Homo sapiens: one gene and its partner. Each later gene encodes a partner of the first gene's protein in a complex. Each region holds a gene or a part of one and is shown in the gene's direction. Other genes may lie near its edges.

What was found. Proteins that work in one complex are often made in the same cells at the same time.
Region 2: the proteins of GDF11 (region 1) and FST are in contact, whole or in part, in a crystal structure (PDB 5JHW), measured with the Homo sapiens proteins. Residues at the interface, in NP_005802.1 of Homo sapiens: Asn299, Leu300, Gly301, Leu302, Glu310, Arg312, Asp328, Trp329, Ile331, Ala332, Lys334, Arg335, Tyr336, Lys337, Tyr347, Met348, Phe349, Met350, Pro354, His357, Gln361, Ile380, Asn381, Leu383, Phe385, Asp387, Lys388, Gln389, Gln390, Ile391; in NP_037541.1 of Homo sapiens: Leu34 (codon at 6,444), Arg35 (codon at 6,447), Gln43 (codon at 6,471), Val44 (codon at 6,474), Leu45 (codon at 6,477), Tyr46 (codon at 6,480), Lys47 (codon at 6,483), Thr48 (codon at 6,486), Arg60 (codon at 6,522), Ser62 (codon at 6,528), Asp72 (codon at 6,558), Asn73 (codon at 6,561), Leu75 (codon at 6,567), Phe76 (codon at 6,570), Met79 (codon at 6,579), Ile80 (codon at 6,582), Leu134 (codon at 7,176), Asp135, Arg149, Gln153, Pro154, Glu155, Val180, Val181, Asp182, Gln183, Tyr188, Val190, Thr191, Asn193.

What each region holds. Positions count from the first base shown.
Region 1 is NC_000012.12:55,739,248-55,746,134, forward strand, and holds the start of GDF11 (growth/differentiation factor 11 preproprotein), read left to right. Parts: upstream 1-3,874; 5' UTR 3,875-4,069; coding exon 4,070-4,514; intron 4,515-6,887. UniProt on the Homo sapiens protein: Secreted signal that acts globally to regulate anterior/posterior axial patterning during development. May play critical roles in patterning both mesodermal and neural tissues. It is required for proper vertebral patterning and orofacial development.
Region 2 is NC_000005.10:53,476,451-53,483,628, forward strand, and holds the start of FST (follistatin isoform FST344 precursor), read left to right. Parts: upstream 1-4,178; 5' UTR 4,179-4,341; coding exon 4,342-4,426; intron 4,427-5,881; exon of another isoform or gene 5,882-6,065; coding exon of another isoform or gene 6,066-6,135; intron 6,136-6,429; coding exon 6,430-6,621; intron 6,622-7,053; coding exon 7,054-7,178. UniProt on the Homo sapiens protein: Multifunctional regulatory protein whose primary function is to antagonize members of the transforming growth factor beta (TGF-beta) superfamily including activin, myostatin, GDF11 or bone morphogenetic proteins (BMPs).

The sequences.
Region 1 (6,887 bases):
GAGCGTTGTAAGTTGGGGTAACAGTAATAACTAATGCATTTAGAACAGTTTTTCAGACATTTAATCTTCATAACCTTATGAAATAGGTACAATATTGTTATCCTTGGCCAGGTACAGTGGCTCACGCCTGTAATCCCAGCAATTCGGGAGGCAAGGCGGGTGGATCACTTGAGGTCAGGAGTTCAAGACCAGCCTGGCCAACATGGTGAAACCCTGTCTCTACTAAAAATACAAAAATTAGCCAGGCTTGGTGGCGCGTGCCTGTAATCCCAGCTATTCGGGCGGCTGAGGATAGGAGAATCGCTTGAACCTGGGAAGTGGAGGTTGCAGTGAGCCGAGATCTCGCCACTGTACTTCAACCTGGGCGACAAAGCAAGACTCCGTCTCTCTCTCTCTCTATATATATATATAATTATTCCCATCTTACAGGTGAGGAATCTGAGGTATAAAGAGGTTTAATAACTTGTCCAAGTTTACACAACCAGAAAAGGGAGAGAGCTGGGACTTGAACCCAGCCAGCCTACTTCTAGTCTAGAAGCTAGGCGATTATCTCCATACCTCACAGAATGGTGCAGATATATCTGGGAGAAGCAACTACTCTAGACCCGAAGTCAGGAAGGGATTCTTGGATGGGATCTATGCTGAGACCTGAAGAAAGAGTAAACTTGGCCAAGAGATTGGTGGGTGGAAGAGAGTGGAAGTAGTAGGGGGAATTGTTCTAGGAAGAAGAAACAACCTGTGCAAAGATTCAGAAATGGTCAAGAGGACAAGGGTGAAACAAGACATTCAGATTTCTAGCCTGGATGATTGTCATTCACTAAAATGAAAAGCTGCAGGATGGGACACATTTTAGGGAGAAAGAAGGGGTTCTCTAACCTGTGATATTTGAAGTGCCATGAAACATCCAGATTGAGATATGCAGGAGGCATCTGGCCTAGAGTTCTGGCTGGTCCTGTTTACTTAATGTCTTCTTTTCTTTTCTTTTCTTTTCTTTTCTTTTCTTTTTCTTTTCTTCTTTTCTTTTCTTTCTTCCTTCCTTCTTTTTTTTTTTTTTTTTTTTTTGTTTGACAGAGTCTTGCTCTGTCGCCCAGGCTGGAGTGCAGTGGCATGATCTTGGCTCACTGCAACCTCCGCCTTCCAGGTTCAAGTGATTCTCCCATCTCAACCTCCTGAGTAGATGGGACTACAGGCGCATATCACCATGCCCAGCTAATTTTTGTATTTTCAGTAGAGACGGGGTTTCACCATGTTGGCCAGGCTGGTCTCGAACTCCTGACCTCAGGTGATCCACCCACCGTGGCCTCCCGAAGTATTGGGATTACAGGCGTGAGCCACCGCGCCCGGCCTACCTAGTGTCTTTTCTAGTTTATATGTTCTCTGAGGAAAGGAGCTGAGTCTTACTTACTTTTGCATCTCATTTATCTTTGTACCTGCCACTAGATACATGTTTGGTGAGGAAGTGAAGCCTGTACTACCTTCTCTAAGGGAGAAGAAGGAGGTGACACCAACTTTGCTCTCACAGCCTTTCCAATTTTGCTGAAGAAATGACAGAGAAACATTTTAGAAAATAGGATATGCCAGAATATGTGCTAAAGGCAATCGCTGCTCTGGAAAATCAGAAAGGAAAGGAAGAATCATGAAGGAGAAGAAGCCCATGAAGGCCACTATTGATTGCTTATATGTAATCCCCACAACCAGTTAAGGGTAGGAATTGTGGCCCCATATTATAGATTAAGAAACTTGATGAAATGCTGAAATGCCCATGTCTTGGTTGAAAGCAAGGGAGGGAACAAGCTAAGTTTTTGTTCCAGTCTGTTTTGTTTTCAGTTTCTGTTACCCATGGAAATGGATTGTCTCTTCAAAGCTCCCCAGCTTGGTCCTCCTAACCCCTACCCAACCTCCTCCCCTCATACCTGGATCCCCAGTTTCTTCCCTTATTTTACTCCAGTTCCTCAACCCAACTCTATCCTTATGTCTGGTGCTCCTGATGCCTATGCCAAGCCAACTTTAAGATATGTTATTGGGCTTTAATTCCAGAGAGGAAACCAATGCCCCTCTATTCTGAGAAGCCCAATAATAAAGTTCATCCATTTATTAAATAAACATTGTGAATGCCAGGAAATTAGCAAGACCTGATTCCTTCAAACATTTTCTTTTCTTTTCTTTTTTTTTTTTTTTTGAGACGGAGTCTCACTCTGTCGCCCAGGCTGGGGTGCAATGGCGCGATCTCGGCTCACTGCAAGCTCCGCCTCCCAGGTTCACGCCATTCTCCTGCCTCAGCCTCCCCAGCAGCTAGGACTACAGGCACCCGCCACCACGCCCGGCTAATTTTTTGTATTTTTAGTAGAGACAGGGTTTCACCGTGTTAGCCAGGATGGTCTCGATCTCCTGACCTCGTGATCCGCCCACCTCGGCCTCCCAAAGTGCTGGGATTACAGGCGTGAGCCACCGCGCCTGGCCTGGCACAAACATTTTCCATTTGACTATTGCTCCAGGGCTTTCAGATCCAGAAATAAGCCTGGAAAACCTGAAGTCAGAAGTTAAGCACATTCAAAACATTTTTTCACCTTAGTACTGTTTTACTCTGCTCTCTGACTGCCCAGGATCACACCTGAAGACTAGGGCTGGTCCCACATCTGTATTTCATCTCGTGCATCTGAGCGCAGACTTCTTTCCCATGCTCACCCTTGCAACCTCCAGCCCCTTCTCAGACTTCTAAGACCCTGCAGATCCAAAGATATAGCTAGAAATCCAGAGATCTAGATTTCTCCCCAAGTATAACAGCCTCCAGCCATCTCCTCTCACCCTTCCCCCAGTGGCCTCTAGCTCCTGCCTTTTCCAGCCGGCTGACTACATTAGCCCTGTTAAGCCCCAGTTTCAAGCTCACAGTCTTCCCAGCTCTATGTCTTCCCTCTGTTTCAGTTCTTCCCATCACCTCTCCACCTTCTTAGGTTGTCCCTGACCTCTTCCTCTCCTAGTCCCCTTAATCCCTCTGATGAGCCTAGCCTGGTGCTTCCTTCCATGGCTTCCTTGAGCATCTTCTTTGGGCTACCTCTGGTGGCTAGAGCTCCTCTGGTCTCAAGTTCTCCACCTCTGTCCCCTGGGCTCTCTGTGCTCCCACCAAGGCTGACTCTTGTGGCTCCTTCTCTCAGGAGTTTCTGCCTTTCCTCTCCCCCACCCCCAATCCCCTGCACCTGCCTCCTCAGGGGCTCCCTTGTTGTCTCCCTGTCTGTGCCCCTCTCTCTCCTCCCCCATCCTGATTTCTCTCCCCCCCACCCCCCCCCCCACCCCTTTCCCAGGGCACTCTTCTGTCCTCTGTTCCTCTGCCGCTGTTCCCATCTCCATGACCCCCGATCTCTTCTGGTCTGGCTCTGTAGACCTCTGTCTCCCCCTATCTAGTGGTACCCCTCTTCTCCCCATTTTTGTCTCCACTCTAACTCTCCCACTAGTTGTCCCAGTCTTCCTCCTTCTTGGTTCTGTGTCTCCCACAGACACACAATTTCCCTCTCTAGCTAAGTCTCTCACCTCTGCGTCTTCCCCCTGACTCTTCTTTTCCTCCTTTGTCTCTCCCTCTCTCCTCCTCCTTTTCCTATCTCTGTCTCTTCCCCCTTATCTCTCTGATTCTCCTTGGTCTCTCTGGCTCTGACTTTCCCTCTATATCCGCCCCCCCGCCCCCTCATATCTCTGTCTCTTCATCTCTCTCTGGCCCTTGCTCCCTCATTCCCTCCCTCTCTCTATTCCTCGGCTCTCTCCGGCTCCCTCTCTCGCCTCGGATGACAGCGCTGCCTCTTTTGTTGGCTCCGCAGCCAATCGCGGCCGCTGACGACACGGGGGCCGGGGCTATAAAGGGCCTGGCCCGGGCTCGGGCCCCCCCAGCCGCCCGCCCCGGCCGCCCGCCCGCCCCGCCCGCGCGCCCGCCGCCCCCGGCCCCCCGGGTCCCCCCTCGGCCGGGCAGCCCCCAATCCCGCGCCGCCCGGACCCCCTCCTCCTCCCTCCCTCCTCCCTCCGCCCCCTCCCCGCGGGACTCCGGCGTCCCCGCCCCCCAGTCCTCCCTCCCCTCCCCTCCAGCATGGTGCTCGCGGCCCCGCTGCTGCTGGGCTTCCTGCTCCTCGCCCTGGAGCTGCGGCCCCGGGGGGAGGCGGCCGAGGGCCCCGCGGCGGCGGCGGCGGCGGCGGCGGCGGCGGCAGCGGCGGGGGTCGGGGGGGAGCGCTCCAGCCGGCCAGCCCCGTCCGTGGCGCCCGAGCCGGACGGCTGCCCCGTGTGCGTTTGGCGGCAGCACAGCCGCGAGCTGCGCCTAGAGAGCATCAAGTCGCAGATCTTGAGCAAACTGCGGCTCAAGGAGGCGCCCAACATCAGCCGCGAGGTGGTGAAGCAGCTGCTGCCCAAGGCGCCGCCGCTGCAGCAGATCCTGGACCTACACGACTTCCAGGGCGACGCGCTGCAGCCCGAGGACTTCCTGGAGGAGGACGAGTACCACGCCACCACCGAGACCGTCATTAGCATGGCCCAGGAGAGTAAGTGGGCTGCGGGGCGCGAGCAGTGGGGTGCTGGCTCTGGCCCCGCGAAGGGCGCCTTCTGCTCCAAGCGGGGCGCTCCCTGCTGCCCCGGCCCGGAAGCTTTTTCTGCGAAAACTTGACGAATTAGGGAGCGGGGGCTACTTCATAGAAGTTTTCCGAGCGGTGGAGATGGGCTGCAAAGTTGTATGCACGCCTAGTTCCCGGAGGTTGGGGCGGGGGAAATGGGGCGGGTTTCGAGATAGTGCCTTCCACCCCCAGTATGCTAAAAAGATCCTTGTTGGAGTCCGGGGAAGCTGGGGCTGGGCAGTGACTCTGTCCTGAAAAGCCGTGGTGGGGAGGCTGGAGAACAGAATCGGGAGGCTGCAGGACCCCCGCAGCCCCAGCTGGACTGCAGTGCTCTCTGCTTCCCAGTGGCCCTGGCGGTAACTCCCCACTCCGTGCTCCGTTCGCAACGTGCCCAACGGGTTGCAGAGAACTGTGTGCTTTCTCCCAAGAATAGGGTCCCAGAGCCCTGTACACCTCCTGGCAGCCCAGCTGGCACCCTTTCCATCCTGACCCCTGTCTCAGACCGGGTATCCCAAGGGGTCGGAAAAGCTGTGCCTTCTTGATACTGACCGAGCTCGGAGAGCTCAACTCCATTGCGCTGGGGGCTAAGGACACTCATTGGCTACTCAAACCTTAGTGTTCCATCCCTTATTCGCCCACCCCTACCGCAGGTGGACTTGAGAGAGACGAAGACCTAGGAAAAAAGAGAAAGTAGTAGATGGGGGAGCAGGAACCCAGGCATCCGAGCCCCTGACCAAACGGAAGATGAACATATAATAGACATGAGCTGCTTTGAAATTTTATGGCCTGGAAAATCCAGGCGAATACTACACCCCCCCTTTTCCAGCTCTCCTTAGGGTCAGGTGACTCCTTCTCCTCCCCCACTGAGGTCTCCCCCCCTCCCCAACTACAGGGAACCAGGCCTCTCTTATTCCCTAGTGGTTTGGCAAGGTTCCCCCCTTCCCACAGCCCCCTGCAACACACACAGAGTTTGGTTTTATGGCTGTGAACAGAAGACGGGGGAGACTGGTTTATTGGCAGATGGGTCATAAAAAGCTGGGGGCTGAGGGGAGTCCCAGTGGCCCACCCCCATGGGAGAGGCACAGGAACCCAGGTGTGCATCTGGGAGGCTGAGTGCCTCACACTGCCCCTGGTATTTCTGCAGACCTCAATTCCACAAGACTTGGTCAGGGCTGTTAAACTCAAAGAACCAGGAAACTGGCTGTGGGGGTGGGAGGTATGGGGATCCGGTCTGGGGTTCCTCAGTTTCCCTTCTATTCTTAAGCCTTCTGCTTATGGAAGCTAGGGTCAGTCTCAGATCGACTGAGGGCAGGGGTAGGGGGTGGGGTTTCTAGGAAACAGAGTTATAGAGGAATTCAGATCAAGAGTTTGCTGGAAGATGAAGGTTACAGAGGGAAAAGATACTCTAGTCTCTGTGGTGTAGTGTGTGTGAAGATTTCCAGGATGGGTGATGGGGCTGTGGACTTCTCCTTGCCCCTAAATATCCTTAGCATCCCTTAACCAACAGGCCTGAGCCCACCAGAGTTAGCTCTGGTAATGGGGATACACGAAGTGAAGGGACCCTGCCTTCATGAGTTGGGCTGTGCAGGTGAGGCCTGGGTCGGTGGGAAGGGGACACCAGCTGGTAGGATCCCATCAAAACTTACAGTCCCGTGCCACCCCAGGACTTGTACAAGTAGGGAACTGGGTCTCCGGCCAGGTATTGTACGTCCCCTTTAAGAGCCTAGCTGAGCTCTTAAGAGAGGGAGGGGGAGTGGAGGGGAGGGGAGGGAGAGAGGGGAAAAGGAAAAAGAGACTTTTATAGTCTAATCCCCAGGGACCCGCTTTAATAAGAGACTTGTGCTCTGCTAATCGGGGGAGGTGTTTGTCAGCAGAGATGGCCTCCGTTCCCCTCCCCCTCCCTCCCCTCCCCCAGCCCTCAACCCTGGACCCCAGCCCCCACCTCTCCTAGGCTGCTCTGCCTGCCCTAGTTCCCTCTACCCTCTCAGGCTCTCCCACCAAGCCTTCATCCTGGGAACCCAGCCCCCTGCCCTTCTGGGAGCCAAGCCCAGCCCGAGTTTCTCTCTCCTCCCCACACCAAGAGGCCCCTGCCCTCTCAGCCCAACCTCCTGCCCTTAGGCCTTCCAGCCATGGTTGGGAGTGTGTGTGTTTGGGGGGGTTAGGGTGGGGGGAAGGGGAGGTGGTGTGCAGGGAGGGGGTTGGGCATTTGCTGAAAATAGTGCAGTGACCTCTCTCTCCCACCAGCGCCGCCTACTAAACCTGACCTGCTGCCTGCCACCAGCCCGATCAATTCAACACAGATGT
Region 2 (7,178 bases), on another chromosome or scaffold:
AAAAAGCTACTCAGTTCATGACTTTCAAATAGTCTCTACATAACCTCACCCCACTCCCTCCATATTCTCTTTTTAGGTACTGAAATTTAACCAGGTCAGTTCTGGTCTCAAATAACAATGTCATATGAGTTTAAATAGCTATCTAGGGAGTTAGATTGAATCATTTGCTAAACTCTAATATTTTAAATTTATAAACTTCAGAAGGAAGACAGCTTTTGAAGCTGACAAAAGACCAATCAGAAAACAGTAGTCTTTTTGTGTGCTGCCCAGAAATTCAGCTACAAAGTGGTCCTATTGTGTTTCTCATAATTTACATTTTTATTTGGCAGAGCAGAAAGGAAAAATAAGAAGTCAAACTTGGAGGCATACAACAAAAATGAAAGGCGACATTTTTATTTTAAAATGTCCCCTTGACATTTAGATATCTACAAACCCAATATTTAACATTTACAGGCGATATAACAGTAAAAGAAATAGCAGCTGTTTTTCTGTGATGTCACTGAACAGGTGTGGTACCATTTCATACCACAGAAATGGGATGGATCTCTTGCTGATGCCCACAGAAAGCCTATAAGGAACCAGTATTGACCTGTGTCTCATTTCCTCAGTTATGATCTGAAAATAACCCTAGATGGCAAGAGTCATGGTGACTGATCTGTGCTGATTTGGAGCAGACATTCTCCCAAACAGATCAATACTATCCAAGGTGCAGCTGAAAAACAGGATGAGCTTGTATCACTAAACAAACACCAAGCTGCTTATTCAAAAGGGCAAAAGCAACACAGCACTTATGTTTTCCACAGTGTGTTTGCCAGTGACCTCAACCCTGACCTGCAGGGTCACCTTCTCTGGGACGAGAAGTAATCCTGTGTTGGGTCACCCTCTGGTACTGAGGGACTCCTATTTGTGGTGCCATTTTTTACAATGAGAGCTACTGTGTCTGCTTTGGCTTAGCCAAGACAATTACATGATGCCAAAACAACTAGTCAAGGCAGTCAATTTAGTCAAATGACTGGTCTGAGCATTTGGCATTACATAGACAAAAAATGAAATAGAAATGAAATTTTTACTTTTACCCAATCATACTGGAATTGTGAGGATACAACTTAAATTAATTTAGAAAGTTTTTGTGACATCAGTTGTTTCTATATACATAAACTAAAATAAGTATCTGGACAAACTAAATAGTTTTGCTCAAACATGGAAAATTTTTTGACTAGCCCCTCCAAATTGCTTCTATTCTAATCTTCATTTAGCTACACAGACCTTCCCCCAAAAAGGTAATCTTTGTGTATACTTGTATGACCCTTTTACATCAACATGTTATATGTACATATAGGAATGAACAAAATTAAAATCTAATAAGAACATACAAGTTATATCACTATTCTCCTTGCTATACGGTTATAAAATATGATGAGATTATGAACTTTAAAACAATCTTCCCAAAGATATTGAGAAAATAAATATGGATTAAAACGTGATTCTATATTTCTCCAGGCAAGATGACTTCATATACAACTAGGCATATAAGTAAAATTTAAATATTTTGTATAGTCCTAGGGTGGAAAGTCTAAGAAAAAGACCCCAGTTTCCAGAGGCTACTGGCCAATTCAGGACCAATAAATATATTTAAACTGGAGACAAATATAAAATCATGTAATTATGTATGATCATTGATAGCATTGCTGTAAGATCCAGTTACTTACCATCTGAGATCTTTTATGCATTTGGAATGTTTATTTTTCAACCTTGGATATACGGTTTGATACCTCTACCTTAAAAAGAAGCTGTGTCTCTTGCTGCCATTAAAAGACAGGGTAGGGGGAAAAGTCAAGTAACAATACTTGTTAGCTTCTCTTTCCTTTAACTTATCCCTGGGCAGGGGTGGGGGAACCTTTAAGCAGAGAAAACAAACTTTCCCTCCAGCACATCATTGTATAAGGACTATACCATTTCTCTGAATAAAGAAGAAATAAATTCAGCTTTGGAACTCTGCCATTGAGTGGCGGCTCCTGCAAAGGGGACAGTTTGCTATTAATTGTTAATGTCGTCTGCCATTAGAGGGCACTAAACAACTCTACATTAATGAGTTGGAGGGAAGAGAGAAAAGGAGACTGGAAAAGAAAGAGAGGGAGAAAAGGGAGGGAGAGTACGGGTAGAGTCTGGGTAGAGGGAGGGAAGGAGAGAAGAGGGGAAGGAGTAGGGGAAAGAGAGCAGAGGGAATGAGTTGGAGGACTGGAGGGAAAGGGAGAAGGGGAGAGAGACAGCGAGACAGAAACAGACAGAATGATTCTGGAAAGATTAAGAAGGATGTGGAGCCCCCACAGCCGTCTGAAGTGAGCAAAATCCAGTCTCCCCCGGGCCGCCCGAGCCCCTCCCCTCCCGTCCTCATGACGGTAATTATAAAGCGAAAAGCGGCGGCGAGGTCACCCGCTTTTACCAGCCTGCTGCACCGAATGCGCGCGGTGCAGGTGCGGCGGCCGCGGGGCTTTGTGATTCATGCCCACTTTCAAAGGGGGGCTTGGGCCCGTCTGAGAGGCACCCAAACAACTGTCTTCTAATATTAGCACGGCTGTATTTCGGGATCTATTATAGTCTGTCCAGACAGATCCCATTGTAATGGGATCTTTTATTAAAAGATTAGCACTATCTCCTGCAGTTGGTGGAAAAAAATCTGTTATCACTGAGTTATTTGCAGTTGTGGAGGGGGGAAGGTTGACGGAAGATGGGGGGTGGGAGGGCTAGAGGAGGACTGGGGGAGGGTCTGGCGGGGGGAGGGCAGTTGCAGGGGGGGAAGAAGGGCAGATTTGAAATTCGTAGAACAAATCCCAGTGACCTGCGAATGTCCAAGAATTTTGTCTGCATACTTCGCTATCTGTTGTCCTTCGGGCTTCAGATGCGAAAAGAACAAATTTAAAAGGCAGCTTTGGAATAAACAATATAGCATTTTCCGTGAAGTAATCGTTTTATATAAAAGGAAATATCGCCTCCTCAGTTTCATTCAGCGGTGCCAAAAATGTTATAAATGAGAGACCCGCCAACTTTCAGCGAAGAATGCCAGGCACTGTACTTAATAAACTGAGGCTACAGAAGTTCATTATGGATGTTGCAATCTTTTTTATTCCGCGAAAAGAGAGAAGACGAGACAGAAAGAGAGAGAGATTGGAGCCGAGGAGACTGAGAGACAGACAGAGGCACACAGGACAGAAACTGGGGAGTCTCCAGGCGGGAGAGGAAGGGGGGGCCAGACCGCCTACGTCGGCGCCCCCGCTCCGGGCTCCGACTCCAGACGCCGCGAAGTGAAAGGGGAGAAAAGAAAGGGAGAGGGCGAGGCTGTGCCGCGGGGAGACCGGGCCTGAGGTGTTAAACATTTTTGTTTGCTTCCGACTAGTCCAGACGAAGGGCCGCGTCTCGGTAGCGCTCTGCCAGGGTGGAAGGTGCCGGGGCCGGGGTTCCTAGCAACACCTCTGGGCTGGGGGTGGCTGCAAAGTCAGGCACTCACAGACCCAGACACAAAACCTCGCGGGTCCCGCGCCCAGGCTGCGGGTGCCCGGAACCGCCGCGAGGCCGGCGCGCTCCGACCCGACCCGGGGCGGGATATTTGGGCAGCCCGGGGCTCTTCGGCCGTTTGCAAAAGTCTCTTTGGAGCGGAGGAGAGGCAGCACGGAGACAAACTCCCGGGTTCCCCCCGCCACCGCCTCCAGCGCCCCCACCGCGCCCTCCCTCTCACACTCGCGCGCGCGCGCACACACACTCACACACACACTCACACACACACCCGCCACCCCGGGCGCGCCGGCGCTGCCGGCGAGCGGCGGCGAGCAGGACTTGAAGTGGGTGTTCTTCCCCACTCCCCACCCCCGACGCGTAGCCCCCAACCCCCGCCCCGGTCGCCTTCCCCCTCCCTCTCGCTCCTACGCAAATAAGAACTCGACGATTCCCTTCCAGCCGTTTTGATTTCGGGCACCTCCGAAAGATAATTGGGAAGGGTTTCCAGAAGGTGGGAAATGTCACCTGATTCACACTGAACTTTTGAAAGCTCCCCACCCCCAAGGAGCCGCGCACACCCTCGCTCGCGGCCGCCCTCCCACAGCCCCACACACTGGGAGACCGCCCACCGCAAACCGCGGAGACCCCCGTCTAGATTTAAAGCGCGGCTGCGCCCGGCTTCTGACGTCCATTGAATCGCGCGGGCGGCCGGCGGCGAGCGCGGGGCTGCGCCGGGATCGCTGCGCCCTCCGCCGCTGGCCTCTGCGACGCGCGCCGCTCGCCCGAGCCACCCGCCGCCGCGCCGGCTCCCCGCGCCGCTGCGCTCCTCGCCCCGCGCCTGCCCCCAGGATGGTCCGCGCGAGGCACCAGCCGGGTGGGCTTTGCCTCCTGCTGCTGCTGCTCTGCCAGTTCATGGAGGACCGCAGTGCCCAGGGTAAGCGAGTGGGGATGCGCTGGGGAGGCTTGGCTGAGGACAGGGGGGTCGACTTTTCTGTGGTCTCCACTTGGTCTGTTCTGAGCAACGCTGCTCTCGGAAGATGTTGAACCAACTTGGGGACTCCGGGATGGAGAGGAGTGGGAAAATTGTAGGCAATGACACTTTAGGACTGGGAACTGAGTTTGGAGCTCGGTTATCTTGAAAAAGGAAAGGGAGCGAGCTGGGGTCTTAGTAGTTAGGGTTAAATGCTCCAAGTTCTGGCCATGATAACTTTAGATGTGATCTCCTCTGTTTGGCTCTGAAGAAGGGAACAAGTATCAGTAGTAGCCTGGAGATTTCAGTCGACCCATTTGCAGTCTCATCTCTCTCCCTCCCACATCTTTTGGATACTTAAAAAAAAAAAAGGAAAGAAAGAAAAGAAAACCTGGGGGTTTGGGGGAGAGATACTGAATTTTATTTGGTGGCTGGGGGACGTGGTTTCAGAAACTTTGCCCAAACTTGGAAATGTGGGTGCTGAAGATTTTCAAGGGAAGTAGCTTTCTGCCTAGTGGATGCTTCTTCCAACCCCATCCCCCATTCTCGCAAAAAAAAAAAAAAAAAAAAAAAAGCCAAATTATTACCCCAAAGTGCTTTGAGCACTTTACAGTTTTTTTCCCCTCTGCCTCATTCTTCTTTCTGACCCTTAGCTTTCTGTAAAACAGTGAGCAGCCCATAACTGACTTAAATTCTGAAATGGGTTAAGAGCAAATTTCTGAAGCTTGCCTTTTAAAAATAGATTTGTTTATTTCAATTAGTCTTTGGGCAGAATGTTTAAAATAATAATAGCAGCTTGCGATCCAATGATTGTTAAAGTCATATTGGTGATTCATGAGAAGTCTTCTCGACCCAAATCCGAACATTAAAAAGGGGGAAGAGGGAGAAATCACTTGCAAATATTTCTTGCTAGGTATGAGATAGGTACTTATAACCGTGAAATGGTAGGAAGACTCCCCCCTCCCCCCACCTTAAGGCATTACTTTCCCTGCTTCAGCGTTAACATTTTAAGTATGTTGTAAACTGCCCTCCTGGGCACTGCCCCTCGCCGTCTGCATGGCACTGCGCTGGGTTGCCCGCCTTTAGAGGAGAGGCTCTGCCTGGTGCCCGGACGTGGGCGCGGAGGAAAGCAGCCCTCGGAGATTTCGAAAGATCGCGGTGGCCGCGGGCGTGCTCCGGTCTGGCGGATTGCAAAACGGGCCCGTCGGGCTGGCTGCGCCTGGAGGCCGCGCGGGGTAGCTCCGGGCTGGGCCGGGTTGCTTTTTTGCTTTCATTTTTCAGAAGTGCCTTTTGCTTGATCTGTTTCTCTCTCTCTCTCTTTCTTTTCTTTCTTCCTCTCTCTCTTTCTTTCTTCCTTTTTTTCTTTCTTTCTCTTTCTTTTCTTTCTTTCTCTTCTTTCTTTTCTTTCTTTCTTTCTCTTTCCTTCTCCCTCTCTCTCCCCTCCATCTCTCCTCTCTCCTCTCTCTCGTTCTCTTACTTTCTTAACCCCTGTCACAAATAATTCCTGTACCCGCCTACATGAAACCAGCATGTAAAAACATCCGTCGCATCCTGTTTTTGTCAGGTTCTTTAATCTGCTCTTCGAGTCTCTGCAGGTTATGAAATGGGACGAATAAAAGTAAACAGTCTAGTAAAAGTCAATGCAAGCTGCACGTGTTGTGTCTGGGTCACTGGTAACTGACATTGATATGGCTGGGGCGCCCTGTCTTCTCCCTCTCTCCCTCCCTCCCTCTCGCCCACCTCCCATCTCTGTGATCAGGGCTTCCCCCTCCACTGCCTTCTTTTTCCACCCCTCCACCCCTTTCGATTTATTTCCTACTTTTCTCCCGCGTCTCTCTCACTTCCCCTCCTCCACGCTCACCCCCTCCCCATCCCCGCCGGGTCTCCTTCGCTAGCCACCTCGCTCTCCCTGCCCTGCCACCGCTCACTGCTCACTCACCCACCTCCCCACCCTTGTCTCTTCACAGCTGGGAACTGCTGGCTCCGTCAAGCGAAGAACGGCCGCTGCCAGGTCCTGTACAAGACCGAACTGAGCAAGGAGGAGTGCTGCAGCACCGGCCGGCTGAGCACCTCGTGGACCGAGGAGGACGTGAATGACAACACACTCTTCAAGTGGATGATTTTCAACGGGGGCGCCCCCAACTGCATCCCCTGTAAAGGTAGGACTCCTTCTTCCCAACTTGCAGGCCCTCAGTAGAGGGCGTCTTACCCTTAGCTTCCCCACTACCTGACTGGGGTTTGGGAGTAGGAGAGCTTTGTTCCTGGGCTTCCCCTTCCTGTCCCTTGCCCTGGTAAGCCGTGCAGACTCTAATTCTGCCTGTTACAGGCTGTAGGGAATACACGCCAGACTTCTTAGCCAAGTGTGGTGGTGAAACCCACCAACCTGTGCTCCTTAATGAGAGAGATCTGGGTGTGGGGCACAGCCCAAGGTCCACACTCTTTCACCAACTCCCAATATTCCAGGAGAGAGCCTGGGGCCCCTCCAGCGCAAACTCAGGGCTGCATGATTGCGCAAGGCACCCGAAGCCCTCCTGGCTGACCTGCAGACTGCCTGGCTCTGGTTTTAATCCATGCCTGTTTCTAACTCACAGAAACGTGTGAGAACGTGGACTGTGGACCTGGGAAAAAATGCCGAATGAACAAGAAGAACAAACCCCGCTGCGTCTGCGCCCCGGATTGTTCCAACATCACCTGGAAGGGTCCAGTCTGCGGGCTG